Homo sapiens: one gene and its partners. The protein of the gene in region 1 purifies or fractionates together with the protein of each later gene. This does not show direct contact. Each region holds a gene or a part of one and is shown in the gene's direction. Other genes may lie near its edges.

Region 1 (4,173 bases):
GCCTGGGAAACAGAGCAGGACAGTGTCTCAAAAAAAAAAAAAAAAAAAAAAAAAAAAAAAAAGCCTGAGAAGTCCAAGAGCCAAGCTCCAGGAATAGCTGAGTCCAGGAGCTCAAATATCATTGTCACGGCTCTGCTTCTCTCTGTGTTTGTTGTATCCTCACAAAGGCTAGAAGTTCTGAAATAGCACTGCTGGGCTCCGGCCCACATCTTCCTGGCTTCATCCACAGAGCAAATCTCAGAACAGCCAATTCTCCTTGGCCACATGCGTATCCTGGACCAATTCCCTTGACCAAGGAGGTGAGGTGCCTCCATTTGCAGGGCAGGCTCATGGACCCACCCCTGCGTGTGTGTGAGTGGGTGGTGGGGGCAGTCAGTCATTGTGACTGACAGCCCCGCTAGGACCGTATGAAATGAAATGGTGAAGGGCAACTCCCCAAAGGAAGGGATGCCAGGCAGACGGCGAGCAGAATGGATATACTCTACAGACCTTTCCGTTGTGACATTCCTTATATCTCCAAACTTTCACCCCAGCAACCAAGCACTTTTCAGTGTCAGCAGCATCCCTAAGCCTACATTTTAAGCAGTAGAGAAATATAATAATTTTTATTTGTATGGCATTTTAATATTGACAAAGCACTTTTGAACATGTTGCCCATCTGACCATCCATATCGTGTGCCGGAGGGATTCTTATTTTCCCCATGTTACAGATGAGGATACTGAGAGTCAGAGTGATTCAGTTGATAGCAAAATGTCATCCTCGCAAGAACGTGAACTTTGGAAACAAACCTGGACACTGATTTTGACAAACTACTTAACTTCTCTCCAAACCATGGTTTCCTCATCTCTAAAATATGGATAATAATAGCACCTGTCTCACAAGGTTGTGGTAAAGATGAAATAAAACAATGTATGAAGGACCAGTCTCAGCATAGACATACAATAAATGTTAGGCACCCTGTAATTGACTTATTGAGCTCACATAGCATGCAGATAGCTGACTCCAAATCCAGGTCTTTTCCTACCACACCAAACTAATTCCTTCAAAGGTACCTCCTCCCCAGGAGATTAGTATAAAAGTAACTATCATAGCTTTAACTGGGGTGGGTCTTCCAGCGTGCTGGGCACTGGTATCATGATATCCAATTTCCTGACCACGGCGGCAGACTCAGGTCTGGACATGTGCTCCAAGCAGGCCAGCTAGAGTTTTCCCTGAGATTTGCCTATGGATCCTGAGGGACAGAGTCTCTGCTGTTGACTTCCCCAAATAGATAAAGCTTACCAGGAAGTTCTACCATGTACTGGGGCTGCCTTTGGCCATCTGTTCTGCTGTGTGTTGAGTCTCTGCAGAGAAGGAAGCCACCACACCAAGGAAGGCAGTGTTGGGAGAGTCCCAGCGCATGTAACTCAAACAAAGCTTGTCACCCTGGGGCCAATTCAGGATAACATCCAACCACCCGCCATCACCACACATACAAATTCACCTCCAGAAAAGTCTTTCAAGAGTAAAGTCAGCTTTTCCCAAAGTCTCTCAAAAAAGGTAAAGAAGAGGAAAGCACATTATATAATACATGGTAGGACCTCCTGGTAAGCTTTTTTATCTATTTGTCTCCCGCCAAAAACCCCAAGTCAAAATGACTTGGAGGCTGCGTGGTGGCTCATGCCTGTAATTTCAGCAGTTTGGGAGGCCAAGGCAAGAGTACTGGGAGGCCAGGAGTTTGAGACCAGACTGGGCAACATAGGGAGACACCATTTCTACAAAAAATTTTAAAATTAACTAAGTGTGGTGGTGTGTGCCTGAAGTCCCAGCTACTCAGGAGGCTGAGGCAGGAAGATTACTCAAGCCCAAGAGTTTGAGGTTACAGTGAGCTATGATCGCGCCACTGCACTCCAGCCTGCGTAACAGCGTGAGACTCTATCTTTAAAAAAAAAAAAAAAAAGATTCTGTCTCTATTCCTCTTCTCTTGGCCCCTTTTCCCACCTTTTGTTTATTTTCATTTTTTCAAGAAATAGCTTTGTGACTTTTCTGAGTTTTATTTTTTCCCATTCTTTTTGTTTATTTTTAATTATATGAGTAATATACAAATACAGTCTCATTGTAATATATTCAAACAATACACATAAAGCAAAAGTCCTCCTTACTTACTACCCCTTCTCATCCTTCCCTCACCCTCCAGAGGTAACCACTATTAATTGGTTAGGTATGTATCTTTCCTGGCCTTTTTCTATATATTTACATATGTATTTAATAATACCAGGCATTGTCAGGCACTTAACATAAGCACTCTGTTCCTGAAAATCAAGTGTTCAGTAACAAAATGCAATTTGGAAACCTATTTCCGAATTATGTAAAATAGGAAAAATTCAGATGCATTACAGATTAACTCAAAACTCTAAAACACAGTGAAATGCCTACATACAAATGTATAAGAAACAAAGTAACTTGTTAGGATGTAAAATGCCTAAAACTTTACTTCCTTGACCCAGTTCATATGGTTCTAACAACCTTGTGTCGAGTGAACTCAAGTCATTATCCATATAGGTTTTGCTTAAAATGTTGTATTGAGTTGAGGGGACATAAACTAAATTGATTTTATGCAATCAGTAGCCAAAAATGTTGGATTGAGAGAAATGTGCATTTTATGAAACATTGGAGTATGAAACATCAAAAAGCCTTCTAAAGGAAAACACAACTGGGGGAATTGTTCTGCAGGGAATGCCAGCTAGTATTTAGGAATGTTTGCTATAGGCCAAGCACTCTTCTATGCGTTTAAATGGGTGTAGAAATATTTAGCACTGTGGGCCAGGTGTGGTGGCTCACGCCTGTAATCCCAGCACTTTGGGAGGCCGAGGTGGGCAGATCACGAGGTCAGGAGTTTAAGACCATCCTGGCTAACACGGTGAAACCCCATCTCTACTAAATATACAAAAAATTAGCCGGGCGTGGTGGCAGGTGCCTGTAGTCCCAGCTACTCAGGAGGCTGAGGCAGAAGAATGGTGTGAACCTGGGAGGCGGAGCTTGCAGTGAGCGGAGATCGCGCCACTGTGCTCCAGCCTGGGCGACAGAGCAAGATTCCGTCTCAAAAAAAAAAAAAAAAAATTGGCATTGTGGATTCCATTCCTTTTGTTTTTCTAATTTTTATTTTTTAGAGACAAGGTCTTACTCTGTTGCCCAGGCTGGAATGCAGTGACACAATCATAGCTCACTGTAACCTGGAACTCGTGGGCTCAAGGGATCCTGTCACCTCAGCCTCCCAAGTAGATGGGGCTAAAGGCATATGCCACCATGCCTGACTAATTTTTGTATTTTTTGTAGAGACTGTCTGGCTACATTGCCCAGGCTGGTCTCAAACTCCTGGCCTCAAGCAATCCTCCAGTCCCAGCTTCCCAAAGTGCTGGGATTATAGACGCGAGCCACCTTGCCCGGCCTGCCTTCCTTTTAACACAAAGGGTCTGGCCACCTGCTCTTTCCTCTTAGTGTATGTTAGAGAAGGTTTCATAGAGCACACGTAACTCTACTTTTTTTTTTAACTCCTGCATAGAAATCCACAGTATAGATGGACCGTAATGTTTTTTATCATTTGCCTTTGGATGGGCATTTAGTTGTTCCTATTTTTTGCTATTATAAGCAATGCTGCAATAAAATCCTTGTACACGTGGGCAGGGCTTATATGCACTAGGCAGGGATTTTACTAAGATCAACGTGTTGAAATCAAGAGGCTTTTTCCAGTTCTCTTCTCAACCCATTACCAGCGCAGCCCATGGAAGGATTGAGCTGGCAGACAGACCAGACCCTTCCTTAGAAGGCAGGAAAAGGAAAGGGTGTGAACTGTTACAAGTTATTCTTTTTGCCCTGATCCACAGTGATTCTTGAAGGTAAGTATCATCATTTCCATTTTCCAGAGAGCTAGCATTAGGATTTACACCCACTTCTATATGTCTGCAAAGCCTTCTTGTTCTTTCTATTACCCAAGCACTCCTTCTCCAAGATTGGAAGACCAAGCCGCACCGCACCCCTCTGCCTAGGTCTGTGAGGACCCTCCATAACACCAGCTGCTCTGTCTTCCAGGTCCACCTGGCCGGACAGGTAACCGGGGAAAGCCAGGACCAAAGGGCAAAGCCGGGGCCATTGGGCGGGCTGGCCCCCGTGGCCCCAAGGGGGTCAACGGTACC
Region 2 (4,487 bases), on another chromosome or scaffold:
TACATGCAGCATATGGATACATATATACGCACCCACATTTAAATGCACACATACACACTCACATGCATGTTTTGTGTATTTCTAATGTCTGTGAAAAACCATGGGTTCATATTTCTGATTCCAGTTCAGCACAGCAGGAGTCACATGTTCTAGTTGTTCTCCTTTCTATATTTATGACTTCTTTTTCTAACAAATTTGATTCCCATTATTCACAATCTGTTGTTTCCCCATTTCTACCATATACAGAAGGGAATTTCAGAATTGGTAACCCATACCACTACAAAACAGAAACCTAGTAATTAGAGTTCAATACATTTCCAGTTCATTTTTATTTTAGAATGCAGCTGTGTAGTCAGAGCTATGTTCCACTTACTCAGGTAACTTTTCTTCCCCTTCAGTGTGATTTCATTATTTATTTTACTTAGAAAGATTCTCAGAGGTGTCATTCTCGGCTATCCCCATTCCTGCTGTCTGTTCCCACCCAGCCTCCTTAGGGAACCACAGTTTCTGGTTTATCCTTCCTGTATTTATTTTTTTACAAAAATATGAAGATACGTATACATTTTATTTCTACCTTTTTCTTCTATAAAAGGTAACATGGTATATATACTCTTACACTTTTTAATTTTTTTTATTAACAACATATCTTGGAAATCTAGACCTTCCTCATTCATTTTTGTTTTGTTTTGAGATTGCCAAAAGCAAGGGCTGATGTCCCTCATCTACACCAGAGTCCTCTTGTTGAATACCGGACATTAATCATCTTAGTTTCTGTGTAGGATGAACTTAACATTTTTCACAGTTAAAAAAAAATGGTACAAAACAAAAATTTTAAACAACTTTAAATAAGCTTAACCGTCCCTTAATAATAGTATATGAGATTGTTCATCTTGGCAATTTCTGATTGTGATGACTTTCCTGCTTTAGTTACTTCACTATTGATGTAGTTTAGTTTAGAGGTTGTATTAGGGGTCTCTAAAGGGTCAGAACTGATAGGATAGATGAATATATGAAGGGGAGTTTATTAGGAGAATGACTCACATGATCACAAGGTAAAATCCCACAATAGGCTGGGGAGCAAGGAAGCCAGCCTGAGTCCCAAAATCTCAAAAGTAGGGAAGCCACCAGTGTAGGCTTCAGTCCGTGGCTGAAGGCCTAAGAGCTCCTGGTGAACCACTGGTGTAGGTCCAAGAGTCCAAAAGCTGAAGAACTTGGAGTCTGATGTTTGAGGGCAGGAAGCATCCAGCATGAGAGAAAGGTGGAGGCGGAAGACTCAGCCAGTCTGCTCTTTACATGCCTGCCTTTATGCTGGCAGCTGATTAGATGCTGCCCACCCAGACTGAGGGTGGGTCTGCCTCTCCCAGCCCGCTGACTCAAATGTTAATCTCCTTTGGCAACACCCTCACAGACACATCCAGGAACAATAATTTTCATCCTTCAATCCAGTCAGATTGACAAAGTATTAACCATCACAGAGGTTAAGAGCACAGACAGGCAGGCAGCCTGGGTTGGAGTCCTGACTTGGCCACTTACTAGCTATGTCACCTTGGGCTTGGTTTCCTCATTGTAAATAAGGGTAGATGTGAGGTTTTGGTGAATTTGTACGTGTAAGGCATTGAACGTTGTCTGTCACATGGTACGTACTATGGAAAAGGTTATTATGCTTGTATTAAAAAATACAGGAGTATGAATTTATTACTTCAGTGTCTATAGATTCTATAAAGTCAAGATCTAAAAGATTAGCTATTTGTTTTGGTCGTCTCACAAATCTATCATCTGCAGATTTATTTAGCAAGTCTGAAAAATTCATACTTTCATTGCTTGTCTACTCAGTCTTCGAGGGATCATGTAAGAATTAAATTTAGGAAAAACAATTAGCAAGATAAGAGATGAATGGATTCTCCACACGCTGAATAATAGATACCAGATGGCTTTTGAGAAAAAGACCCCAGTTTTTGAGATCTGCTGTCAAGTATTCGATGTCCCGGCCAATAGTTCAAGGAGTACCTGTGTTTTGAAATAGCCTTATGAGTGACATCCTACATTCCATTTATTGAAGTGCTGAATAACAAATATTATTGTTTCTGGCCAGGCATGGTGGCTCACGCCTGTAATCCCAGCACTTTGAGAGGCCAAGGCAGGCAGATCACTTGAGGTCAGGAGTTCGAGACCAGCCTGGCCAACATAGTGAAACCCTGTCTCTACTAAAAATACAAAAATTAGCCAGGCATGGTGGTGTGCACCTGTAATCTCAGCTACTCAGGAGGCTGAGGCATGAGAATCGCTTGAACCCAGGAGGCAGAGGTTGCAATGAGCCAAGATCGCATCACTGCACTCCAGCCTGGGCAACACAGTGAGACTCCATCCAAAAAAAAAATAAAAATAAAAATACCGTTCTTGAAAAATTGAATAAATGCATTATTTCATGATATGTCTTAACAAGCCTGAAGTCTGTGTGATGTAACACTTTAGAATGAGAGGCCACTTTCTGTTCTTTAAGGAGATGTACAGGTGGAAATATTCTTGGCTTTAACTCTAATTTTGTTTTCCAAGATGCACATTATTTTTGCATCTGTGCAATTGATGTCTCTCTAAATTGAAACTTTATCACCTCTCCACAGGGATGCCTCTGCACTGCTGGATCCGATGGAGTGCACAGACACAGCAGAGGAGCAGAGAGTACACAGTCCTCCTGCTTCATTAGTGCCGAGAATTCATGTGATCTTAGCCCAGAAGTTGCAACACATCAACCCATTATTGCCTGCCTGCCTTAACAAAGAGGAGAGCAAAACCTGTAAGTGTAAGTGTTACAGCCTAGTCAACTATCGACTGTTAGCCTCAGTGTGTCCAGAGCTGCCTGTAACGTGCTCATAGTGGAATTGAGAGTCAGGTCTTCATTCCTCACAATAAGTGTTTTCAGTAATCTCTCTCTCGTTGCCCCATTTTTCTCTTACATTAATTCTCTTCACTGAAATGAGGACAAAAGAGTATACAAGGCTGGGTGCAGTGGCTCACGCCTGTAATCTTAGCACTTTAGGAGGCCAAGGTGGGTGGATCACCTGAGGTCAGGAGTTCGAGACTAGCCTGGCCAATATAGTGAAACCCTGGCTCTACTAAAAATACAAAATTAGCCAGGTGTGGTGGCGTGTGCCTGTAATCCCAGCTACTCGGGAGGCTGAGGCAGGAGAACTGGAGGCAGAGGTTGCGGTGAGCTGAGATGGCACCATTGCACTCCAGGCTAGGCAAAAAGAGCAAAACTTGGTCTCAAAAAAAAAAAAAAGGAGGATGCAAACTGCCTTATTTTTAAGATTAGCATCACTTACTGACGGATATGTTAAGCTTTACCTACTGTCGACTGAATTGTGCTTTGCTCACGTAGTTATTTTTTTACCTAAGACACTTGAGAGGAACTGGAGTGTGTGTCCTGACTCAGGTCTTCCTTTCTCCTTCAGTTGTTTCAAGTTTCATGTCCGAATTGTCTCCAGTCAGAGCAGAACTTCTTGGGTTCCTTACTCATGCCCTTCTGGGGGATAGTTTGGCTGCTGAATACCTTATATTACATCTCATCTCCACAGTGTAAGTGCTGTATCCTGGTGGGAATTAGGGGAGTTTGGTGTGTGTGGAAGTGGAAGAGCGGGAAGATTGCTGGTGTCATTTGTGTGTTTTCCTTATTGGGCTTCATCACATGGTTTTTATCTGTCCAGTGTTAACTGTTATACCAAATCACAGACAAATTCCTTTTCTCACAGTTCACATTTAGCATTTTGATTATGTCCCCTTAAATTTTAGAGCCAAAATCAGATAAAGCAGTGGTCCCCAACCTTTTAGGCACCAAGGACCCATTTCATGGAAGACCATTTTTCCATGGACCGGAGTGGGGATGGTTTCAGTATGAAACCGTTCCACCTCAGAACATCAGGCATTAGTTAGATTCTCATAGGGAACACACAGATGTGCAGTTCACAATAGGGTTCGCGCTCCTGTGAGAGTCTGATGCCACTGCTGATCTGACAGGAGGCGGAACTCAGGCGGTAATGCCCACTCATCCACCCCTCACCTCCTATGTTGTGGCCCGGTTCCTAACAGGCCATGAACCAGTACTGGTCCACGGCCTGGGCGTTGGGGACCCCTGAGATAAAGGACCTGGCTGATGAGTAAAATGAGCTGTTTTATCCCTTTTGCATTCTGAACGCTCTGTTTATACATCCCAAGGCGCCCACGTCATGTGCACGTTTAACGTGGACATTGACACTAGCACCGCATCCCTTGACTCCACTGTATTTCTTTGTTTCTCATTTTAAAACTAGTGTGGGCCTTTGACAAGTTCCAAGAACATAAGGAGGAAAATGCACATCATCTGTAATTTCACCACTTAGAACCTCCGTTAACCTTTAGGTACATGTTCATTGGTTTTTGTTTACATATGTATACATCCTTGCATAGGTCTTAGTTACACTCTAAGCACAGATGCGTGTCTTGTTTTCAGC
Region 3 (4,487 bases), on another chromosome or scaffold:
TACATCTCTGGAAACTGATGCCAGATTACCAAATATGGGATGTTTTAATTTAAGCACTCTTTTATCAGTATATACCACTTTTAGTAATTCATTTTCAGTTTCTATGGGAATAAAAGCCAGAGTCAGTTACATAACTGTTAACACTGTATACATTTTATCCATAATAATAAGCTAAAGCTGAGCTACAGAATCAAGGTTTTCACACTCAGTTGACATAGCATTTTAATTTATGGAAAAATAAAATATTTTGGAAGATTTGGGAATTAAAAGCAGAAGTAGTTAAAAGTTTGTTTTTCAAAGCAGGTAAAATTGGGAAAAGCAAGAATTTTTAAAGTGATATTCTTGAACATATTGATCAATTATAAGTTTTTAGGAAAACTTAGCAAGAAGACTCTAGCTTACATTCAGCTTCCACTGAATCTCAACTAATTCTAGTTGTTTCTTAAATATATTTATGAGTAAAGTATTTGGAACTTTATTTTTTAAAGCTATCTAATGCATTTTAATTACTGCATTTCAAATTGCTAAATTCCTTTCAATATTTAATGTAAGTATTAAATGTGACAATCATTTGAATTATTGAAGAAGAAAAAATATCTTTGGTGGTCATGTGATGATTATTGAAACATTATGCAGTACTTTTACTCATAAATTATTTATAGGAAGTAAGGAAATATTTTTAACTGGGAGATTATTGAGAGAATTTTGGTTGACTAAGCTATAGATAATTAGAATATTTCCATGTTATCAAGACATTATCACTATTGAGAAAAATGATTTGGTGTTAGATGTAACATCTGAAGGTTATGACTGTAGTTGTTCTGATAACAGCTTTTTCATTATTCTGGAGTTCAACGTTTCAGGAGTAAGGACTTAATTTGTTTCTGTTTTTGTTTTTTGTCCAATCTCTTTTGCATTTGCCATAGCCTAAGTCCAAATGTGTTTGTGAATATTGGGAATTGTCCATTGGGTGAATGTAGTAGATGGAAATGTCAGCTTAGGACCATGATTTCTATTATTTCCCTGCATAGAGATAGAGAAAATGATAAAGTATACTTCTGTCTATGCTTGCCTTGCTGTGGATACCTTTTTATGTAAATGTTTATCCCTTTACATGTCCTCCCTCATTTTTACTGATATCAAAGAAACGGACAATGGGAATATGAAAATTTGCTACGCTCCATCTCTGGTTGAACCTAATTGTCTGCCTTCTCTTAGTCTACAGTGGAATCACTGAATGATAATGAAGAAAGTTATGACCACAAATTTCAATGGGTGCTCAACACTGTGCATCAGAGCAGCCTCACACTGTTGCTCTCCAGCTGTACAAAATGACTATTTTACACTTTCATGTCTCTCAAACTTTAATACTTCCCTTCATCCCCGCCCCACTTCCAGATTCTAACCTTTCATTCACAATGAAAAGTACTCGTTTTCCTACTGTCAATAATTTCCCAGCTTTCCAACATCTGTACTCACATTGTGATAGAAGCAGAAAGCTCCTATCAAAAGCTAGTCAATGTAGTTGCTATCCCTTTCCAGCTTCTCAAAGATTTCGCCCCTTCTCTTGCATTATCATTGCCTTTTTTTGCCAAATTGTTTCTTTTGGCCTTAACATGCTCTTATTATCTCCTTTCTTTAAAAATTTTCTCTTAATTATCTCACATTCCCCTTCAGCTATTGCCTTATTTCTCTGCTGCTTTCGTAATGAGAATCCTCAGAAGAGTTGTTGATAGATGCTCTCTCCATTTTCTTGCCATCCTTCATTTATTTATTAACCAACCCCCATCTGCTTTTCAACCCCCTTTTCCTCTGAAACTTTTAATCAAAGTCACTAGTGACATTCACCAGTTTAAAGGATATTTCTCTGTTAGTACCTTACTAGATTTTTCGACCCGGTTGCATTTAACATAGGCTGTCACTCCTTCTTGAAACACTTTCCTTTCTTGGTATCTATGATATCATATTTGCCTATTTACTCTTATTAATTCTGGTGGGTTTTCAGTAACTGTTGTTCGTGTTTCTTGTTCTATCTCCTTCTGAATATTATAATCAAACCCCTTAGTTTGGGCTCTCTTCTCTTCTCTTTACATACACTCTTTCTCTGGGTGATTGTGTCAGTTCCTCATAGCTTTTAATATCTCCTGTAAATTCATGACTCACAAATATATATATCAGCAATCTGATCTTCTACCCTGAATTCCAGACCCTTATGCCTGATGTCTGACTGCTATTTTGACAGTATGTTTTTGTTATTGTTGTACATCTTTTTTTTTTTTTTTTTTTTTTTTTTTAAAGACAGTCTCACTCTGTCACCCAGGCTGGAGTGCAGTGCACAATCTCAGGTCACTGCAGCCTCCCCCTCCTGGGTTCAAGCAATTCTCCTGCCTCAGCCTCCCAAGTAGCTGGGATTACAGGTTCCTGCCACCACACCCAGCAAATTTTTGTATTTTTAGTAGAGATGGGGTTCCCCATGTTGGTCAGGCTGGTCTTGAACTCCTAACCTCAAGCAGTCCATCCGCCTCGGCCTCCCAAAATGCTGGGATTACAGGCATGAGCCACTGCACCCGGCCTATTGTTGTACGTCATAAATCTACATGTTCAAACTAAAACTTAATGCAGCCTCCTACCCTTCCTGTTCCGTAATTGGCTCCTTCTTGGTCCATTTGCTTATTTGAATAACCTGTGAGTTTTTCTTGATTCCTTCCTTTTCCTCAAGTCCCATGCCAGCTCATCAGCAAGTTCTTTTGTTCCTGTATCTAAACTATAACCTGGGTCTTTTCATCTCACCATCATTTCTTGTCTCCTAATTAATCTGCCTGTACCTACTGTTGTTCCATTATAATGTATTCTCCATGCAGGAGCCAGAATGAGTATTTTAACATGTTAAATCAGATTATATAACTTTGCTGTTTAAATCCCTTCAGAAGTTCCTAATTGCATTTGGAAATACAACTACAAAAGAAAAAAAAATCAAACTCCTCACTGTGGACGTATAAGAATTTATATGGCCTGCCCTTCCCTGTCTCTCTAGCCTCATCTCATTCAATTTTCTCAGTACTTGATGATTGTTACACTCTAGATGTACTACTGATTTCTTTCGGTTATCAGAGAATTTCCGTGCCAAATTCTGCCCTGCCCTGCCCTGCCCTCCCCCGCCCCACCCCGCCTCCACCCTGCCCCCACCCCCTCCCCTCCCCCCTCCCTCCCTCCCTTCCTCCCACTTGCTTGCTTTCTCTCTCTCTCTTTCTCTCTCTCTTTTCTTTCTTTTCTTCCTTCTTTTCTTTTCTCCTTCCTTCCTTTCTTTCTTTTTCTTCTTTTTAGACAGAGTCTTGCACTGTTGCCCAGGCTGGAGTGCAGTGGCGTGATCTCGGCTCACTGCAAGCTCTGCCTCCTGGGTTCACGCCATTCTCCTGCCTCAGCCTCCCAAGTAGCTGGGACTACAGGCGCCTGCCACCATGCCCGGCTAATTTTTTATACTTTTAGTAGAGACAGGGTTTCACCGTGTTGGCCACGATGGTCTCAATCTCCTGACCTTGTGATCCGCCCTCCTCGGCCTCCCAAAGTGCTGGGATTACAGGCGTGAGCCACTGTGCCCTGCCATTTTCTTTTCTTTCTCTTCTCTTCTCTTCTTCTTTCCTTCCTTCCTCCCTTCCTTCCTTCCTTCCTTCCTTCCTTCCTTCCTTCCTTCCTTTCTTTCTTTCTTTCTCTCTCTCTCTTTTGTTTCTTTCTGTCTCTCTCTCTTTCTTTCTTTCTGTCTCTCTCTCTTCCTTCCTCCCTCCCTCCCTTCCTTCACTTCTTCCCTCCCTTCCTTCCTTCCTTCTTTCCTCCATCCCTTCTTTCCTTCTCCTCTTTCTCCTTTTTCTCCTTTCCCATCTTTCTCTCTTTCCTGTCTTTTCTTTTCTTTCCCTCTTTCCTTCTTACACTTTGTTCTTAGTGTTATTCTCTGTATGCTTGGGAAGCCCTTGTCCTGGCTTATCACTTGGCCAACTTCCTTTTCCTTGAGTCTCAGCTCAAATGCCATATAAGACAAGTCTTTCATAACTACCCTAGGTAAAGTCCTCTTTCCTTTTTCTTCTTGCTGAAATTTTATTCTCTTCTATATAACCCTGTTTATTTTGTGAAAAGCAATTATAAAAATTTATAATTTTCTTTTACTATGATAAGCTCTCTTGAAGACAGGATATTGTCTATCTTGTTGTCTCTGAGTAAGCATCTTTTTTCCCCAACAATATTCACCCTCTAAAGATACGATTAAAAGTGTGATGAGACATTTTGTTATCTTTAAGCTGATATAGACTAGATAGGGTATATTTAGCTTTATTTTAGTCTTTAGATTATACTTTTAGCCCCAGTCATTTACTCTGGCTGTTTCCATTAAGTTTCCAAAATTTGGTAACACCTAGAAGAGAGATGCTGTGATTAGCTGTCTAACCATTTATCATTTTGGATCCATTGTTTGCCTTTGACTGTCTAGACCACATAGG
Region 4 (3,911 bases), on another chromosome or scaffold:
TGTCTGTCACTGTGCTGCACCCTTTGAGGAGCAAGGAGAGGCTGAGCGGCACGTTCTGCGGTCAGCAGATCCCCTACCTTGAACATGCCCATTTCCCAGCCTGCCCCACCCTGCCCTGTGTGTCTCTTGCTACAACCACCACTCTCCTGCCCTGCTCCCCACCCCAGGCTACAGTTCTTCGTGGTGCTCACCAGCCAGCGAGAGCTCTTCCCCAGGCTCACTGCTGACATGCGCCGCTTCCGGAAGCCACCCAGACTGCCCCCTGAGCCAGAGGCTCCTGGGAGTTCAGCTGGCAGCCCTGGGGAGGCCTCAGGGCTTATTCTAGCGCCTGGACCGGCTCCTCTGTTCCCACCACTGGCTGCAGAGGTGGGCATGGCACGAGCACGGCTGGCTCAGCTGGTGCGGCTGGCTGGAGGGCACTGCCGTCGGGACACCCTTTGGAAGCGCCTCTTCTTGCTGGAGCCACCGGGGCCTGATCGACTGCGGCTAGGGGGGCGCCTGGCCCTGGCAGAGCTGGAGGAACTCCTAGAAGCAGTCCATGCCAAATCCATTGGGGACATCGACCCCCAGCTGGTAAGGAACTGTGGGCTCCCGAAAGAGCTGGGATAGGTGCCAGGAATTCCACTGGCAGCCAGGGCAGAGGGCACAGGAATCTGAGGTGACTGGCACAGAAGACTCAGGCCTGTGGCTCCTCCCTCAGGACTGCTTCCTATCCATGACGGTCTCCTGGTACCAGAGCCTGATCAAAGTTCTCCTAAGCCGCTTCCCCCAGAGCTGTCGCCATTTCCAAAGCCCAGACTTGGGAACTCAGTACCTGGTAAGTCCCCTTGAGCTTCCTCTGAAAAGGGAAACACAGCAGAAATCCTCACCAAACAGATGTGCCCCTCAGCCTGACCAAACAAGCTCTGCTCTGGAGGGAGGCCTAGACAGAACGGGACTACACAGATACATGTAAAACCCTTCCAGTACCGGGCATCGAGCTACAGCATGTGATTCTCTGAGCAGCTCTGCCCTCAAAGACTCACCAAGAATACAAGCCTTGGCTTGAGATCCTGAGGGCCAGGCTCTGGAACTGACAACCCAAGGAGCTGTCAGAACTTTGTCAGTAGGCTGGAGCCCCAGAAAGGACCCCTTGGACTTTGAAGCCTTGTTACTTAAAGTGTGGTCCACAGACCAGCAGCCGCAGCACCTGGGAGCTTGCTGAAATGCAGGCTCTCCGGCCACATTTCAGACTGTTGACTCGGGATCTGCAGGTTGACAGTCTCCCCAGGTGATTTGTGTGCACACTGAGGCGTGAAAGCACTGCTGTAAAGGACAGGTAGAGAGAACTGTGGTGGTGGACACGAGCACAGGGCATTAAGGAGCCCACAGAGATGGGCCCAGCCAGAGCTGAGGTTCAAGAGAGGAGGCATTACAAGAGAAGACTTCAAGTGAGAAAGTAGGAGGTGGAGCCAGGTGAGGGGTCCTGCAGCACAGTGCTTGTGCAGAGGATTCATTTCAGGGTGCAGGAAGGGTCTCCCAGAGAAGCCAAGGTCAGTTAGGATGAGGCTGCAGTAGTGTCGGCGGTTGTGAATGGAGGCAGGTGCTCCTGCGGGTGGTGGGAAGGCTGGAGCAGGAGTGGGTTTTGGGGAAGGGTGACAAGCCCAGCTTGGGGCAAGCTGAGTCTGGGGTCCATAGGCCCTTCACTGTCTGCAAGGTCTGTGGGCATCAGGGATTCGAGCTCAGGAGAGTCCTAGGCAGCAGCTCTGTGAACAGGCGGTAACTGAAGCCTTGGGAGAGCAAATCATCCCGGGATGGATCACCAAGCAGAGCGTTAGGGAGCAGATGGACATAAGGGGACGACAAGACAATCCCAGGGGTGGTCAGAGAGGAGTCCCAGGACAGGAGGCAAGGAGGTTGTGCCAGGGGTACAGCACTCTCTGTTGATTGGCTTCAGTGTGCCAGGCTCTGTGTGGGGCCTCCAGGATCAACTGTTACCCCTCATTCTGATGCAGCTCAGACAGGCTGACCAGCAAGCCAGCGAGGATGAGGACTGAGGCTCAATTTGGAGACACGGTCCTATGTGACCTCAGGGTGCAGGCGGGGTGAGGTGTGGAGATGGAAGTAGGCCTCTCCTCATCCTCCCTTCACCTCAGGATGCCCTGTGGGAGGGTCTGTAGGGTCTGTGTCCCCTCCTCATCTTTCACTGCAGGTTGTGCTGAATCAGAAGTTCACTGACTGCTTTGTGCTAGTGTTTCTGGACTCCCACTTAGGAAAGACGGTAAGAACGAGTGGGGGGCTTTGTGTCAGCCTCATGGGAGGCCGTACCCCAAATGCTCCACCTCGGAGCCTGCTGAGGTTGGGGTGCCCACCCTTTCTGAGCCCTGCCTCCTATCCCCACCCATGCCCTCCTCTCACCAGTGCATCCCCACCGTGTTCCCCACAGTCTCTGACAGTGGTTTTCCGAGAGCCCTTCCCAGTACAGCCCCAGGACAGCGAGAGCCCCCCTGCCCAACTGGTCTCCACCTACCACCACCTGGAGTCTGTCATCAACACAGCCTGTTTCACCCTCTGGACCCGCCTCCTCTGAGGGAGTGGACTGGACCACTGAATGTCACTGTTCCTTGAATCATGGGCCTACCAGATTGCCTGCCAGAGGCAGGACTGACCAGCCCTTCTGGGCCCCAGGGCAAGCCAGACACTGAGTGACACCAAAGGCTTTGTAACTATGTCTTGAGGGTCTGCTGCCCCAGCCTGGCAGCAGGAACCGCCCTCCCCAAACACCCACAGCCACTGACCCATCCAGGACTCCAGAGAGTCAGGTCAACCCCGAGGACCCCTTGGGCCCTTCTGGGGTACTCCTTTCGGCCCCCCTGGTAGAGTCTCGGGAGTTCACACAGGGTGGCAAACACCCCCTAGAGCTCCTCTGCCTGAATCCTGCCCCCTAGCCTTTGACCACTGTCAGCCACCTGTGTCCCTTGAGCCTTCGGGTCTTCACTTCCCACTTGGACATCACTGCTGGACATTCCCATCGAGATGACACCTGGGTTCCAATCCCAGCTCTGCCTTTGAAGCACTTGTGGCCACCGTCAAGTCCCTTTGCTCTCGGACCCTGGGTTTCTCATCCTTTAATGAGGTGGGTTCAGAAGCTCTCCCATCTTCACAGCAACCCTGGCACTGGCTTCTCAATGGGAGGGAAGCAGCAGAGAAACTGAAGTGTTAGACACTATGTGTCCCACCACCCCATTACAGAGACATATGACAATGTTCAGCAGGTCATCTTTAATGCAGAGGAGGAGATGGGATGTCACTCGCTGTCTGGAGGCACGTGGGTGGTGTGCGGGCCCTCACTGGCCAGCCTCTGGGTGGCCCCGCCTATCCCAGTATGAACGTAGCCAACTCAAGCCCTCTACTGTGTCTCCTGCAGGGAGAGGGAGGCCTCGGCACCTCAGCCCACAAGGAGAAAACAGCCCCTGTCCGGGTCCCTCCAGAGCTCCCTTCCCCAGGGCCACGCCTCACCTCGAGGCTGATACTCACAGCCCACGAAGCCTTTGTAGCCTTCATCTTCCAGCAGTTGAAACAGATAGGGGAAATTCAGCTCTCCGGGGCTGCTGGGCTCCCCTCGGCCTGGGACCTGTGCCACCTGCACATGCCCTGGGGACAGATGTGGACAAATGTGGGGTCCAGGCTCCTGCCAGGGCCTGAAGGACAGATGTGGGGATTGAAAGGGTGGGAGGGCAAAGGAAGGTCCTCTCACCAACAATGGGCAGGAACTCCCGGATGTTTCCTGTCAGGTTCCCATCCATGATCTGCCAGTGGAATATGTCCTAGGGAAGAGGATACTACATTCCGAGACCCCGCAGGCCCCGCCCTCCTTCCGATCTGCGAAGTACCCCCTTCCACTTACCATTTGTAATTGGAGGTTGGGTCTT
Region 5 (4,487 bases), on another chromosome or scaffold:
TAACAGGAAAATGCATAAAGAGAGGAATTGTATTTTTTAATTAGTAATTTTATGTGGGACTAGATAGACATACTGAAGGGATGGCTAAAGTGAATAGAATGGCTAGACTTGAGTGAGGATGGTTAGGGAAGACTTCTGAGGGTAAGGAAGCCATGTTCTGTTTTGGTTATTAAAATAACATGATCATTGCAGAAAAATTTGGAAAATGTAGGAGGTATAAGGAAGAAAAAAATTTACTTCAGTATCAATCAAGTATTCCCTTAATGCCACCAATTTAATCAAATGATTAGAAAGAAGGAGAGAATATAGTTTGAGAAAATGGAATAAGAATTTTCCAAATAGGATGGTCTACTTAAAACTACATACTTTGTAGCTATATACATTGAAATAGTTAATATGTTCTAACAGTACATGTGCAAGTATTCAACAGACTCCAGTTATGCACCTTTTGTGGGCAAACCAGGTGTGTTGTGCTGTGAGAAATAGAAAGAATGGTGAGACAAATGGTTTTCTGGTGGAAACAGACATGTAAATAAATAAATTAAACATAGAACTAGTTCTATAATAGAAGTGCTGTAATGAATCCTGTAAAATGCAGATATGGAAAATGAGTTGGGGAGTAGTGTTGTGGATTTTGGGAAGCACTTGAGCAAAAACCTAGAAGTGTGGAATAATTGGGTTATGCAAAGAAAGTCAAGTGGTTTAGCATGTTTTTGGTAGATAATAGGAAGGTAGGCTGGGATCTAATGATGGAATGTTTAGGTGTTAAAGAATTTAGATTTTAATTTTTATGCAGTGGGGAGACATAAAAAATGTATTAGATCTGGTAGCATTTTAAGGATTGATTGAAAGCAGGGCGACTACTTAATTAGTTTTGGTAAAAGATGACTAGGACAGTGACAAAGCATTGGAAAGTAGAATCGATAAAACTGAATTATCACTGGAATGTGAGAGAATAGTTAGATTTTGAGGCTTCTAGCTTAGGAGGATGCTGTTAAGAATATTGGAAGAGCACGGCAGGTTTTTTTTTTTAAGAGGGAAATAATGATTCAGGTTTTGGGATGTTGATGTTGAGTTGCTGGTAGAATATTTATAAATATTTTACAGATACTTGAAATTCAAGTCTGCTGAAAGCTCAGGAAAAAACGTTAGTCATGTCTAGGGCTATAGACTTGGTTATTATTTCGTAGTGGGGAAGAGTGAATATGGTTTCCCAGGAAGAAAGTATGGTATTAATAAAGAGGGCTTAAGATGAACTTTGGAAATGTCTACATTTAAGACTTGAACAAAGGAAAGGAAGTCTGAAACAGAAGAGGAAGCAAAAATTGGAGTACAGTCTCATAGAAGAAGGTAGGGAAAAATAAAATTTAAAGGATAAGATGGACGACATTGTCACATTCTGCAGAGAGGTTGAATAAAGTGATGAAGACCCAGGAAAAGGGACTTGAATTGGTAATTAGGAGGACATTAGTAACCTCATTAAAAATATATGTATGCTGTTCCTGGCAGAACAAAAACCAAACCAAACAGGAAAACAGTAGTTTAGAGTGAGAGTGAAGTGGGATTGAGAAATAATTGAAAGGTAAGAGGATAAAGCCAGTGAATATAACATTATTCTTAGTATAAGCTTGCTGCTGAAAAAGAGAGATGAGGTGGGTCAAACTGAGGGAAGATTTATCTAGAATTGAGAAAACTTGATCATTTTTATAGGCCTGAAGGGAAAGAGAGAAAGTGGGAATATTTGTCAAGCAAGATCCTAAAAAGAGACCAGAGAGGATGGAATTAAGAAGTCAATTATTGTTCATGGTAAGCCTTTTTTTTTTTGAGACAGGGTCTCTTGCTCTGTCGCTCAGGCTGGAGTGTGGTGGTATGATCTCGGCTCACTGCAACCTCTGCTTCCCAGGCTCAGGTGATCCTCCCACCTCAGCCTCCGGAGTAGCTGGGACTACAGGCGTGTGCCACCACACCTGGCTAGTTTTGTTTTTGTTTTTGTTTTGTTTTGTTTTGTTTGTTTGTAAAGATGGAGTTTCGCCCCATTGCCTAGGCTGGTCTTGAACTCCTGGACTCAGTGACCCTCCCACTTTGACCTCCCAAAGTGCTGGGATTACCGGCGGGAGCCGCTGTGCCTAGCCCAAGCCTTTTTATTCTTCTTGAATCCTGAGATAGAGAGGAAGAGGTGGATAGTGACATAGAGAAAGTGAGGAAACATGTATTAGAAAAAACTTTCTTATCGATGAACTACATTTAGGGTGGAAACCTGTGGCTGTGGATCAGGTGTGAACCAGCAGTTGCTTACGGAGAGATGCATGTGGCCTGAAGTGTCTTACTTCTTCCTGTGAATAGAAATACTTGTTTTTTCAGAGTAAAATATTAACTTCTATTTCTTTTTCTTGCGCAGGAACTGAAACATTTGATCTTGGAGGCAGCAGATGGCTTTCTGTTTATTGTCTCATGTGAGACAGGCAGGGTGGTGTATGTGTCTGACTCCGTGACTCCTGTTTTGAACCAGCCACAGTCTGAATGGTTTGGCAGCACACTCTATGATCAGGTGCACCCAGATGATGTGGATAAACTTCGTGAGCAGCTTTCCACTTCAGAAAATGCCCTGACAGGTGAGAGTTATGTGTATGGGAAATGAATGAGAAGTCCTTTCTTGTTTTTTTCCTGAGACTTAAGAGATGTTTTAGCTGTTAAATTGGTTTGTTGACTCTGGCAAGGCTTCAAGAATTTTCTACTTTAATGAATATAGTCAGTTCTTTTTATCCATATGAGATTATCTACTTTGTGGCTCAGCCTTAGAAAATATTTCATTGGTGATAATATTTTACATTTATCTTAATATTGGTATAAATAGAACAGTAAAAGCCAAACCTACAATACTTTTTTTTTTCCGTTCTAAAAGAATTATCCATGTTTTTATCTCATTTGTATGGATAATTATCTGGTATTTTTTCTACCTCCTGGTGCTTGGCTTTGTGCTAGGTTCAATGATAACAGCTTTTTATTCTATAGATATGGTTATTGGTCAATGTATAAGGTGTTTTCTGTTGTTGTTGTTGTTGTTGTTTGTATCTGTACTGTTGTTCTTTTTTTCTCCCCTATTTTATTATGTTCAGTCTTTTGGCCAGAGTTTGGCTAGAGGAAACAAGTCATATCTATTCTTGAGCAACTCTAGAAAAAAATTTAAAGTGGAAGCAGATAAAAAAACTGGTAGTTAAAATGCAAGAAATTTCAATATACTCATATTAGTGTTGTTGATCTTTAGTTTTCCTCCTTTTTTCCCACCCAAAAAAGAGACAGGGTCTCTCTCTTGCCTAGGCTGGAGTACGGTGGCACATCATAGCTTACTGTAATCTTGAACTCTTCTGGGCTCAGTAATCTGCCTGCTTACAGCTTCTTGAGTAGCTAGGAGTAGTTCATGTCACCACACTTGACCAATTTTTAAATTTTTTGTAGAGACAGGTTCTGTCTGTTGCCCAGACTGGTCTCAAACTCCTGGCCTTCAGCATTCCTCCTCCCATCTTGGCTTCTCAAAGGGCTGGGATTATCGGCATGAGCCACCACACTTGACCAGTTTTCCCCTCCTTTATGTTTTTATGATTTCATTTTTCTAGTTCTTCCTTTTCCCCAAAAGTTGTTCTTCGTTTCTGTATAATAAAGAAGACAAACAGATCTATATGTTTCTATAACATATAAAATTACTTGGTTTTTTTCTTTTTAAAATTTTTTCTTTTTATTCTTTTTTTTTTTTTTGAGACAAGGTCTTGCTTTATTGCTGAGGCTAGAGTACAGTGACTCTTCACAGGCACAGTCATAGCACACTACAGCCTCAAACTCCTGCCCTCAAGCAGTCCTCCTGCCTCAGCCTCCTGATTAGCTGGGACTACAGAAAAGTACTTGTTTTTCAACCAATGACATTTACTCTGTATGTATGTCTGTATGTGTATACAGATAATCAGCTATGAGAATATAGCCTTGCCTCTTGTTTTCTACTACTACTTTCCACTCCTACTTTTCCTTGCACAATGTTATTTTCAATGCTGCCTTTGAACTTAAGAGTGAGATTCATTGATGATAATTGAAGTATTTTAGGCTTGAAAAAAAATTCATCTCCTGCTTGGTCAGTTCTGTTATAAGCAAGGAGATTAAGGGCATGAATAGGATGCTTACTTATCTTTGCCTTCAGTATCTCTCCCCCTCTTCCCCACACACAAAAATGCACTCCAGACTGCTCTTCACATCTTCCTTCAGGGCGTATCCTGGATCTAAAGACTGGAACAGTGAAAAAGGAAGGTCAGCAGTCTTCCATGAGAATGTGTATGGGCTCAAGGAGATCGTTTATTTGCCGAATGAGGTGAGTGTCAAGCTGAGGATTGTGATTTGGTATAGGAAGGATCAAGAGCTGAGAGTTTTATTTCTGTCAGAGTTAAGTTGGATTAGCTCCAGTGGATTAAATTTAACTCTCCATACCCAGATGGATTGTAACA
Region 6 (4,487 bases), on another chromosome or scaffold:
TAGCCTCCTGAGTAGCTGGGATTATAGGTGCCTGCCACCACACCCAGCTAGTTTTTGTATTTTTAGTAGAGACGGGGTTTCACCATGTTGGCCAGGCTGGTCTTGAACTCCTGACCTCAGGTGATCCACTGCCTCAGCCTCCCAAAGTGCTGGGATTATAGGCATGAGCCACCATGACCGGCCAACACTTGAGAGTTTATAAGTCACTTTATCTTATGTGGTCCTTTCACCAACACCATGCAGCTGGCATTACTGGACCGATTTTTCAGATGGGGAAACTGAGGCTTATAGGGCAAGGGGCTGTTGGTCTTATGACTAATAAAAAGTGGCACCAGGACTTGTGGCTCTCCTCACTGGAGAGATCCTGGCATCCACTGGGGCTGGAATGGACAGCCTCCAGTGTTCCTGCAGCTCGGAGATGCCAAGATTCAGACAGAGCCAGGAGTCAGAGCAGAGGGGCTGAGAACCCAGGGGCCAGGAGACCCTTCCTGGGTACACATAGCAGAGAGGCTAAGGGCCTCTAATTCACTAGAGCCATCATTCTCCAGCTGTGTGAGCTTGAGCAATTTATCTAACCTCTCTGTGACTCAGATTTCTTGACTGTAAAATGGGGATGACAGTAATAGGTAGGCATGGCTGGGCACAGTGGTTCACACTTGTAATCCCAGCACTTTGGGAGGCCCAGGCAGGCAGATGGCTTGAGCCCAGGAGTTCGAGACCAACCTGGGCAACATGACAAGACCCCGTGTCTACAAAAAATACAAAAAGTTAGCCAGGCATGGTGGCGCGTGCCTGTAGTCCCAGCTACTGGGGAGACTGAGGTGGGAGGATTGCTTGAGCCCAGGAGGCAGAGGCTGTAGTGAGCCGAGATCACACCACTGCACTCCAACCTGGGTGACAGAACAAGACCCTGTCTCAAAACAAACAAAAACATACAAAAAATTAGATGGGTGTGGTGGTGCCTGCTTGTAATCCCAGCTACTCAGGAGGCTGAGGTGAGAGGATCACCTAAGCCTGGGAGATCAAGCTTGAGGTGACCATAATTGCACCACTGCACTCTAGCCAGGGTGATAGAGTGAGACCCTGTTTCAAAAACAATAAAAAGACAATAACAGTGAGGCTTAGATGAGTTAGTCAGGGCCTGGCATAGGGTAAGTGCCCACTACATGCTAGCTGGCATTATGCTTGGGTGGGATAAGGAGCCCATTAGGTATTCTGGGAGGTGGCTGGGTAGCAGGGGTGCTGGACTGAACTGGAAGATGGAGTTGACTCTGAAGGGGAAGTGCCAGAGCAATTCCTCACCCCTGTCCTGCTGCAGTGAATGATGTGCGCCAGGCTGCCCGCAGCGCCGCCAGCTACATGCTCTTCGACCCCAAGGACAGCGTCATGCAGCAGAACCTGGTGTATTACCGGTTCCACCGGGCTCGCTGGGGCCTGGAAGAGGAGGACTTCCAGCCCCGGGAGGTGGGCACTGCTTTCTGGGGCACTTGCTGGATATGCACTTTGTAAAAAATGAACTCCTGGCGGCCGGGCGCGGTGGCTCATGCCTGTAATCCCAGCACTTTGGGAGGCTGAGGCGGGTGGATCACGAGGTCAGGAGATCAGGACCATCCTGGCTAACACGGTGAAACCCCGTCTCTACTGAAAAGAAAAAAAAATTAGCCAGGCATGGTGGTGGACGCCTGTAGTACCAACTACTCGGGAAGCTGAGGCAGGAGAATGGCGTGAACCTGGGAGGCAGAGCTTGCAGTGAGCGGAGATCGCGCCACTGCACTCCAGTCTGGGTGACAGAGCGAGACTCCGTCTCAAAAGAAAAATAAATAAATAAATAATAAAAAATAAACTCCTGGCTTCCATGGAAGGCAGGATGGGAAATGGAAAGAAAGAATATGAGTTGAGGTTAGAGTCCTGGCTTCAGAGCCCAGCCCCACTGCTGTGTGGTCCTGGGAAGACCATGGCCCTTTCCTAATCTATTGCCTCACCTGCAAAATGGCAGTGATACTGCCACCTCACCAGCAGTGTCCAGACGAGGGAGGTATGAAGGTACACATCCACTCCTACCTGCTCCCCTCCCTACCTTCATTACCCTCACTGCTGACCTTTGTCCCTCTTTCCCAGGAACACCCTAGGTAACCAATGGAGGAAATCTGTTGGAGTTGAGGGCCAGGCTGGCAAATATGGGGCACATGGTGCCACTCCTGCCTTCCTTGTCAGTGGCAGACATTGCTAATCGATTGAGGGACTCTTTGTCACCAAACTCTCAGAATCCTTAACCCAGTGTTCCAAGCAGCCACGATGATCTGATGAGCTTGTGAGCTGATACCTATTCTCTGATCCTTGAGCTAGAAGAGGGCCAGTGGGCCCAGATCCTAGGAGCCCTGGCTTCTTGCCATCTGGCAACAGGGTATGGCTCACCCCCCACCCCGTCCTTCCCTCCTTCCAGGAGGCCATGCTCTACCACAACCAGACCGCCGAGCTGCGGGAGCTGCTGGAGTTCACCCACATGTACCTGCAGTCAGATGATGAGGTGAGTGCCTCCTGCTTTCCAGGATTGGGCTGTGATGGGGACACCTTGGACCTTTTCCTGGGGCCACCAGTGTGCCAGAATTCAGCCCCAGCCCCTGGTGGTCAGCTGTCGTGAAGAAGAGAGGTTTGCCTGTTCCTTGTCTAGACTGTCCGTTCCTTCCCCAGCCTTAGTATTCTCATGTCCTCCTTTTGTACATGTCTCAATCCTGTTCCTCCCAGGCCCAGCTCACATGGTGCCTCCTCCAGGAAGCCCTTGCTGCATGCCCTGGCTCTTTGTTCTGGGCTAGCAGTGCCCACTCTGACCTGTGTGCCTCCCTGGCCACCTGTGGCCTGGACCTGGGTGATTGCAGCCCTCGTCCATCTCAGCCCTGGGCCCCTTCTCCAGCCAGTATCCAGGAGAACCGCACTGCAGGACACAGGGCCACATTATTCCCTGTTCTCCCACATCCTGCACAGAGCCTGGGCTCAGAAACTGAGTTTGAATGAACCAGTGAATGAATGAATGCAGGACCTCAGGACAGAAGGACCGTATTGTATTACATTGATTTATTTTATTTATTTATTTATTTTTTTTTTTTGAGATGGAGTCTCGCTCTGCCGCCCAGGCTGGAGTGCAGTGGTGTCATCTCAGCTCACTGAAACCTCTGCCTCCCGGGTTCACACGATGCTCCTGCCTCAGCCTCCGGAGTAGCTGGGATTACAGGCGTGCACCACCACGCCTGGCTAATTTTTGTATTTTTAGTAGAGACAGTGTTTCACCGTGTTGGTCAGGCTGGTCTCGACCTCGTGACCTCATGATCTATCTGCCTCGGTCTCCCAAAGTGCTGGGATTACAGGCGTGAGCAGCCGCACCCGGCCCTATTAACATTGATTTCAAGTGAGGGTTTGACAGCCTTAATTTCTCTGAGGTGTTGCTGCTCAGTGCTCATTTATGTATCCTCTCCTTTGTTCATGCCCCCACGCCCCCACCCATCCAACCCCAGAGGAGGAGGGCAGAATCTACACCGTCAGCACCCAGGATGAGGAACTAGCCAGACCTGGCTCCATTACTTACCAGTTGGGTGGCCTCCAAACAAGTGTCAGGCAACCTCTCAAGCTTCTGTTTCTTCATCCATTGAATGGGGAGAATCATGCCCATCTCACATTGTTGTGGTGAGAATAACACAAGATCTGGCCGGGTATGGTAGCTCATGCCTGTAATCCCAGCAATTTGGGAGGCCGAGGCAGAGGGATCACCTGAGATCAGGAGTTCAAGACGAGCCTGGCCAACATAGTGAAACCCTGTCTCTATTAAAAATACAAAAATTACTCAGGTGTGGTGGTGGGCACCTGTAATCCCAGCTACTGGGGAGGCTGAGGCAGGAGAATGGCTTGAACCAGAGGCAGAGGTTGCAGTGAGCCGAGATCGCGCCACTGTACTCCAGCCTGGGTGACAGATTGAGACTCTGTCTCGAAAAAAGAGAAAGAATTAAGTGAGATCAAGTATGTTTTTTTGTTTGTTTGTTTTTGAGACAGAGTCTCGCTCTGTCGCCCATGCTGGAGTGCAGTGGCGTGATCTCAGCTCACTGCAAGCTCCGCCTCCCAGGTTCTCACGCCATTCTCCTACCTCAGCCTCCCAAGTAGCTGGGACCACAGGCGCCTGCCACCACGCCCGGCTAATTTTTTTTGTATATTTAGTAGAGATGGGGTTTCACTATGTTACCCCGTATGGTCTCGATCTCCTGACCTTGTGATCCACCCACCTCGGCCTCCCAGAGTGCTGGGATTACAGGTGTGAGCCACCACACCCGGCCTCAAGTATGCATTTTTCTTTTTTTTTTCTTGGAGACAGAATCTCACTCTGTCACCCAGGCTGGAGTGCAGTGGTGCGATCTCTGCTCACTGCAACCTCCACCTCTTGGGTTGAAGAGATCCTCCTGTCTCAGCCTCCGAGTAGCTGGGATTACAGTCATGCGCCACCA
Region 7 (4,487 bases), on another chromosome or scaffold:
CTTCTCCAGCACTGCCTCTGCCCCAAGGATCAATGTGCTCTAAGTATTCATCCCCCAACCCCTGACCTTGTCGCTCCCTCTCCAGTGGGCAATCTGTCCCAGGCTATAGAAAATGTCCTGAGTGTCCTGCTCTTCTACCCGGAGGATGAGGCTGCCAAGAGGGCTCTGAACCAGTACCAGGCCCAGCTGGGAGAGCCGAGACCTGGCCTCGGACCCAGAGAGGTAATCCCCTCTCCACGCTCACCTGGGAGGTAGCCCCAAATCAAACAAATAGACCTGAGAAGTAACCTGGACCCCCACCCCCCGCTGGCCTCTTACCCGAGCACTCTAGTCACCCAAAGGACTCCAAGTCCAGCATCTGACTTCCGTCTCCACTCCCTGCTCCCCACGGCAGCCTGGAGTTCCGATTCCAGCCCTCAGCCCCGTCTCTCTTGCCTTTACTTCACTCCTGCCTGCCACCAGCCCCCAAACTCATGCATACACACACCCACACACTCACACACACTCCCACCCCCTACACCCTTTCCAGTTTAAGTCCAGATGCTCTGAAGCTGCTGAGGGGGAACGTTGAACAGAGGAACCGGGGGGCATGGTGCCAGGTTCAAGGAGCATGGAGCACCCAGGCAGTGCCCTAGAGCCGGCGCTTCCCTGCCTTCCTCCAGCTACCCCTCACTGCTCATCATCTCACCCTCAGGACATCCAGCGCTTCATCCTCCGATCCCTGGGGGAGAAGAGGCAGCTCTACTATGCCATGGAGCACCTGGGGACCAGCTTCAAGGATCCTGTGAGTCACTCCACTTCTGCCCATCTCACCCCTCCGCACTCCCAGGAGGGATGGCACTTTGGTTTGCAACAGAGTTTTCCATTTTTCCACCATGAGGCTTGGAGAAGAGTCTGCCATCCCAGTTTTACAGGGACGGAGACAGTGTGCCTGTAGTTAGGGCGGCTTTGGGGTCACGCAGGCCTAAATGTCAGTCCTCCTCTGCCCCAAACATCTCTGAACTTCAACTTGCCTCTGCCTCAATTTCCTTACCTGTAAGTTGGAATAATCACATCTGTTTCACAGGGCTGTTGAAACCACATCATTTGATAACAAAATATAGAAAGCTCTGTTACTGCTGCTTTTATTTCTCTTCTTGTAGTTATGAGAGGAAACTGCGGGGCGGAGGTTATCTATGGCTAGGACTAGGGCATCAAGCAGGCGTTCTCAGTCTTCCTGGCGCTACTGATATTTTGGATCTGACATTTTGGATAATTCTTTGTTGGGGCAGAGGGCAGGGCCTGTCCTATGCCTTGGAGGGTGTTCAGCAGCTTCCCTGGTCTCTACCCAGTAGAGATCAATAGCACATTGACAGCCCCTGAGTCATGGCAATCAATGTTTCCACACTTTGCCTAATGACCCCTGGGGGCAGAAGTGTCCTGCTTGAGAACGACTGGCTAAATGTGTGAACTCTGAAGCTAGTTTTTTTTATTTTTATTTTTATTTTTGGAGACAGAGTCTCACTCTGTCACCCAGGCTGGAGGGCAATGGTGCGATCTTGGCTCACTGCAACCTCCACCTCCCAGGTTCAAGCGATTCTTCTGCCTCAGCCTCCTGAGTAGCTGGGATTACAGGTGCCCGCCATCTTGCCTGGCTAATTTTTGTATTTTTAGTAGAGATGGGGTTTCACCATGTTGGCCAGGCTGGTCTTGAACTCCTGACTTCAGGTGATCCACCCGCCTCGGACCCCCAAAGATGCTGGGATTACAGGCGTGAGCCACCGGAACCCGGCCTGCAGCTAGTTTAAAACCTAACGCTGCTTTGGGAGGCCGAGGCAGGTGGATCACCAGATCAGGAGTTCAAGACCAGCCTGGCCAACATAGTGAAACCCTGTCTCTACTAAAAATACAAAAAATTAGCTGGGCGTGGTGGCGGGCGCCTATAATCCCAGCTACCTGGGATGCTGAGGCAGGAGAATCGCTTGAACCCAGGAGGCGGAGGTTGCAGTGAGCTGAGATCGCGCCATAGCACTCCAGCCTGGGCGACAGTGTGAGACTCCGTCTCAAAAAAACAAAAAACAAAAAACAACAACAAAAAACAACTAACCCTGTCATTTGTAGCTGTGTGATCTTGAGCATGTTACTTTACTTCTCTGTGTCTCAGGGCTCTCAATTACAAAATGAGCACTTTAATATTCTGTTTCATGAGACTGTTGTGAACTTTAAAGGATAAATTCCATTTCCATGAATAAAGCTCTTAGAATAGCCCCTAGCAGATAGTAAGTGCTATATGAGTTATAGTTGTACTTGTTGTTACAGTTTGATCCACTGCCCAGGGCTCCTGACATTGAGTCCCGGGCTTTTCCTACCTCCGTCTTCCTCTCTGGAAACAGAAGAAACTTAATGAGATATTTCAGCTCTAATGTCAGGGATTCCAGGGGCTGACCTTGGTGGGTGATGATGCTTTTCTGGACTGTCGCAGGACCCCTGGACCCCTGCAGCTCTCATCCCTGAGGCACTTAGAGAAAAGCTCAGGTAGGATATGCCCCATGGTGGGAGGGGCTTGGCCCGAGCTGGGAGGCTGGGTCTGGACTGTCCTGGGCACCCACTGAGCGCATCTCTCACCCCTGAGAGAGGATCAAGAGAAGAGGCCTTGGGACCATGAGCCCGTGAAGCCAAAGCCCTTGACCTACTGGAAGGGTGAGTTCCTGGGAGGGAGAAGGCAGGAGCCTGGAGGGTCTGGGGGCTGCCAGCTACTGCTCTGCCTGCCCTTAGGGGATGCTCAGCCCCCTCTGCTCTGTCTTTTCCCTGGCAGATGTCCTTCTCCTGGAGGGTGTGACCTTGACCCAGGATTCCAGGCAGCTGAATGGGTCGGAGCGGGCGGTGTTGGATGGGCTGCTCACCCCAGCCGAGTGTGGGGTGCTGCTGCAGCTGGCTAAGGTAGGAAGACCTGCAAGCTCATCAGCTCGTTCAAGACTCTTGGATACAATCACCTGTTCCCTTGCTCTTGGCCTGCCCCCTTCATTCTGCCTGTCCTGATTATCCAACCGGGACTGTGCTTACCACTGCCTCTCAGCTGTGGATAAGTTCCGTCTCGTCTTAATTTAGCTGACATAGGTGGATGTTCTTTACAAATGAATTTTGCTAGAAATTGATAGGAAGAACAAAACAAAAAACATGAAGGCATAAAAATGGATGAGTGTGCAGGTAAGGATTGCTTGGTTAGCCAAGAGTTTAGTTACTGGCTTGGCTGATGGCTCAGCAGACACGCAGGCCTTTCTTTCCCTCCTAGTTTAGGTTGAATGACTCATACTCACCAGGTTGAGGCTACCATTTTATGAAGCTTCAACCCTTATCTTAGGTTAGTGCTCATTCAGTAATATACTCACTGAGTAGCTGCTATACACTAGAAACTGCTAGGTTCTAGGGAGAGGAAGATGATTATAGACTCTGCCCTTTGGGAGCTCAAGTGTAGAGGTGGAAACAGACAAGGAAATACATAATATAAGCAGGTGGTAAGTTTGGTAAAAGAAGTATGTTTTTGGGCTGGGTATGGTGGCTCATGCCTGTAATCCCAGCAATTTGGGAGGCCGAGGTGGGTGGATCACCTGAGGCTGGGAGTTCGAGACCAGCCTGACCAACATGGAGAAACCCTGTCTCTAATAAAAATACAAAAAAGTTAGCCAGGCGTGGTGGCACATGCCTGTAATCCCAGGTACTCGGGAGGCTGAGGCAGGAGAAGCGCCTGAACCCGGGAGGCGGAGGTTGTGGTGAGCTGATCTCGTGCCATTGCACTCCAGCGTGGGCAACAAGAGCGAAACTCCATCTCAAAAAAAAAAAAAAAAAGTATGTCAAATAGAAGCACTGAAATGCAGTTATAGAAGGCTTGCTGGAGAGGTGGTATTTGAGCTCAGTCTTAAGGATGAGTTAGTCAGGCGATTGGGGGTGGAATCAGTCTAAGAGGGAGAAGAGCATGGTGCATTCTGGGAACTGCAGTCAAGCACAGGGGTGAGAGCAGGGCCAGCTCCATAGTCATTACCTGTGTGATCTTGGGCAATTTATTTTAACATCTCTGAGCCTAATTTGCTCATCTATAAAATGAGGATAATAATAGTGTTTTTGTCATAGTGTCGTTGTGAGGATTAAATGAGTTAGCACATGATAAAGCTCTTAGAACACAGAATCATCACTGGCTGGGTGTGGTGGCTCATGCCTGTAATCCCAGCACTTTAGGAGGTCAAGGCAGGTGGATCACTTGAGGTCAGGAGTTCAAGACCAGCCTGGCCAACATGGTGAAACCCGGTCTTTACTAAAAATACAAAAAAATTAGTGGGCATTGTGGCAGGTGCCAGTAATCCCAACTACTGGGGAGGCTGAGGCAGGAGAATCGCTTGGACCCAGGAGGCGGAGGTCGCAGTGAGCCGAGATCGCACCATTGCAGTCCAGCCTGGGCAACAAGATCAAAACTCCGCCTCGAAAAATAAATTTTTTTAAATAATTAATTAATT

The links.
Region 2: the proteins of C1QTNF2 (region 1) and MCMBP purify together in Homo sapiens (affinity purification with mass spectrometry; 3 studies listed by BioGRID and IntAct, with this or other methods). This does not show direct contact.
Region 3: the proteins of C1QTNF2 (region 1) and DCAF6 purify together in Homo sapiens (affinity purification with mass spectrometry; 3 studies listed by BioGRID and IntAct, with this or other methods). This does not show direct contact.
Region 4: the proteins of C1QTNF2 (region 1) and SZT2 purify together in Homo sapiens (affinity purification with mass spectrometry; 3 studies listed by BioGRID and IntAct, with this or other methods). This does not show direct contact.
Region 5: the proteins of C1QTNF2 (region 1) and ARNT purify together in Homo sapiens (affinity purification with mass spectrometry; 3 studies listed by BioGRID and IntAct, with this or other methods). This does not show direct contact.
Region 6: the proteins of C1QTNF2 (region 1) and P3H4 purify together in Homo sapiens (affinity purification with mass spectrometry; 3 studies listed by BioGRID and IntAct, with this or other methods). This does not show direct contact.
Region 7: the proteins of C1QTNF2 (region 1) and P3H3 purify together in Homo sapiens (affinity purification with mass spectrometry; 3 studies listed by BioGRID and IntAct, with this or other methods). This does not show direct contact.

Annotation. Positions count from the first base shown.
Region 1 is NC_000005.10:160,349,678-160,353,850, reverse strand, and holds part of C1QTNF2 (complement C1q tumor necrosis factor-related protein 2 isoform 1 precursor), read left to right. Parts: intron 1-3,974; coding exon of another isoform or gene 3,975-4,069; coding exon 4,070-4,173. UniProt on the Homo sapiens protein: Involved in the regulation of lipid metabolism in adipose tissue and liver.
Region 2 is NC_000010.11:119,841,561-119,846,047, reverse strand, and holds part of MCMBP (mini-chromosome maintenance complex-binding protein), read left to right. Parts: intron 1-2,621; coding exon 2,622-2,794; coding exon of another isoform or gene 2,795-2,800; intron 2,801-3,452; coding exon 3,453-3,576; intron 3,577-4,487. UniProt on the Homo sapiens protein: Associated component of the MCM complex that acts as a regulator of DNA replication.
Region 3 is NC_000001.11:168,005,696-168,010,182, forward strand, and holds part of DCAF6 (DDB1- and CUL4-associated factor 6), read left to right. Parts: intron 1-4,487. UniProt on the Homo sapiens protein: Ligand-dependent coactivator of nuclear receptors. Enhance transcriptional activity of the nuclear receptors NR3C1 and AR. May function as a substrate receptor for CUL4-DDB1 E3 ubiquitin-protein ligase complex.
Region 4 is NC_000001.11:43,447,912-43,451,822, forward strand, and holds part of SZT2 (KICSTOR complex protein SZT2), read left to right. Parts: coding exon 1-60; intron 61-167; coding exon 168-573; exon of another isoform or gene 574-700; coding exon 701-817; intron 818-2,191; coding exon 2,192-2,260; intron 2,261-2,425; coding exon 2,426-2,569; 3' UTR 2,570-3,107; coding exon of another isoform or gene 3,108-3,160; 3' UTR 3,161-3,326; coding exon of another isoform or gene 3,327-3,400; 3' UTR 3,401-3,498; coding exon of another isoform or gene 3,499-3,633; 3' UTR 3,634-3,736; coding exon of another isoform or gene 3,737-3,806; 3' UTR 3,807-3,886; coding exon of another isoform or gene 3,887-3,911. Other genes in the region: HYI (putative hydroxypyruvate isomerase), read right to left, coding at 3,327-3,400, 3,499-3,633, 3,737-3,806, 3,887-3,911.
Region 5 is NC_000001.11:150,834,405-150,838,891, reverse strand, and holds part of ARNT (aryl hydrocarbon receptor nuclear translocator), read left to right. Parts: intron 1-2,398; coding exon 2,399-2,612; intron 2,613-4,251; coding exon 4,252-4,354; intron 4,355-4,487. UniProt on the Homo sapiens protein: Required for activity of the AHR. Upon ligand binding, AHR translocates into the nucleus, where it heterodimerizes with ARNT and induces transcription by binding to xenobiotic response elements (XRE).
Region 6 is NC_000017.11:41,804,836-41,809,322, reverse strand, and holds part of P3H4 (endoplasmic reticulum protein SC65 precursor), read left to right. Parts: intron 1-1,318; coding exon 1,319-1,464; intron 1,465-2,443; coding exon 2,444-2,527; intron 2,528-4,487. UniProt on the Homo sapiens protein: Part of a complex composed of PLOD1, P3H3 and P3H4 that catalyzes hydroxylation of lysine residues in collagen alpha chains and is required for normal assembly and cross-linking of collagen fibrils.
Region 7 is NC_000012.12:6,831,131-6,835,617, forward strand, and holds part of P3H3 (prolyl 3-hydroxylase 3 precursor), read left to right. Parts: intron 1-85; coding exon 86-222; intron 223-694; coding exon 695-784; intron 785-2,461; coding exon 2,462-2,514; intron 2,515-2,611; coding exon 2,612-2,679; intron 2,680-2,794; coding exon 2,795-2,919; intron 2,920-4,487. UniProt on the Homo sapiens protein: Part of a complex composed of PLOD1, P3H3 and P3H4 that catalyzes hydroxylation of lysine residues in collagen alpha chains and is required for normal assembly and cross-linkling of collagen fibrils.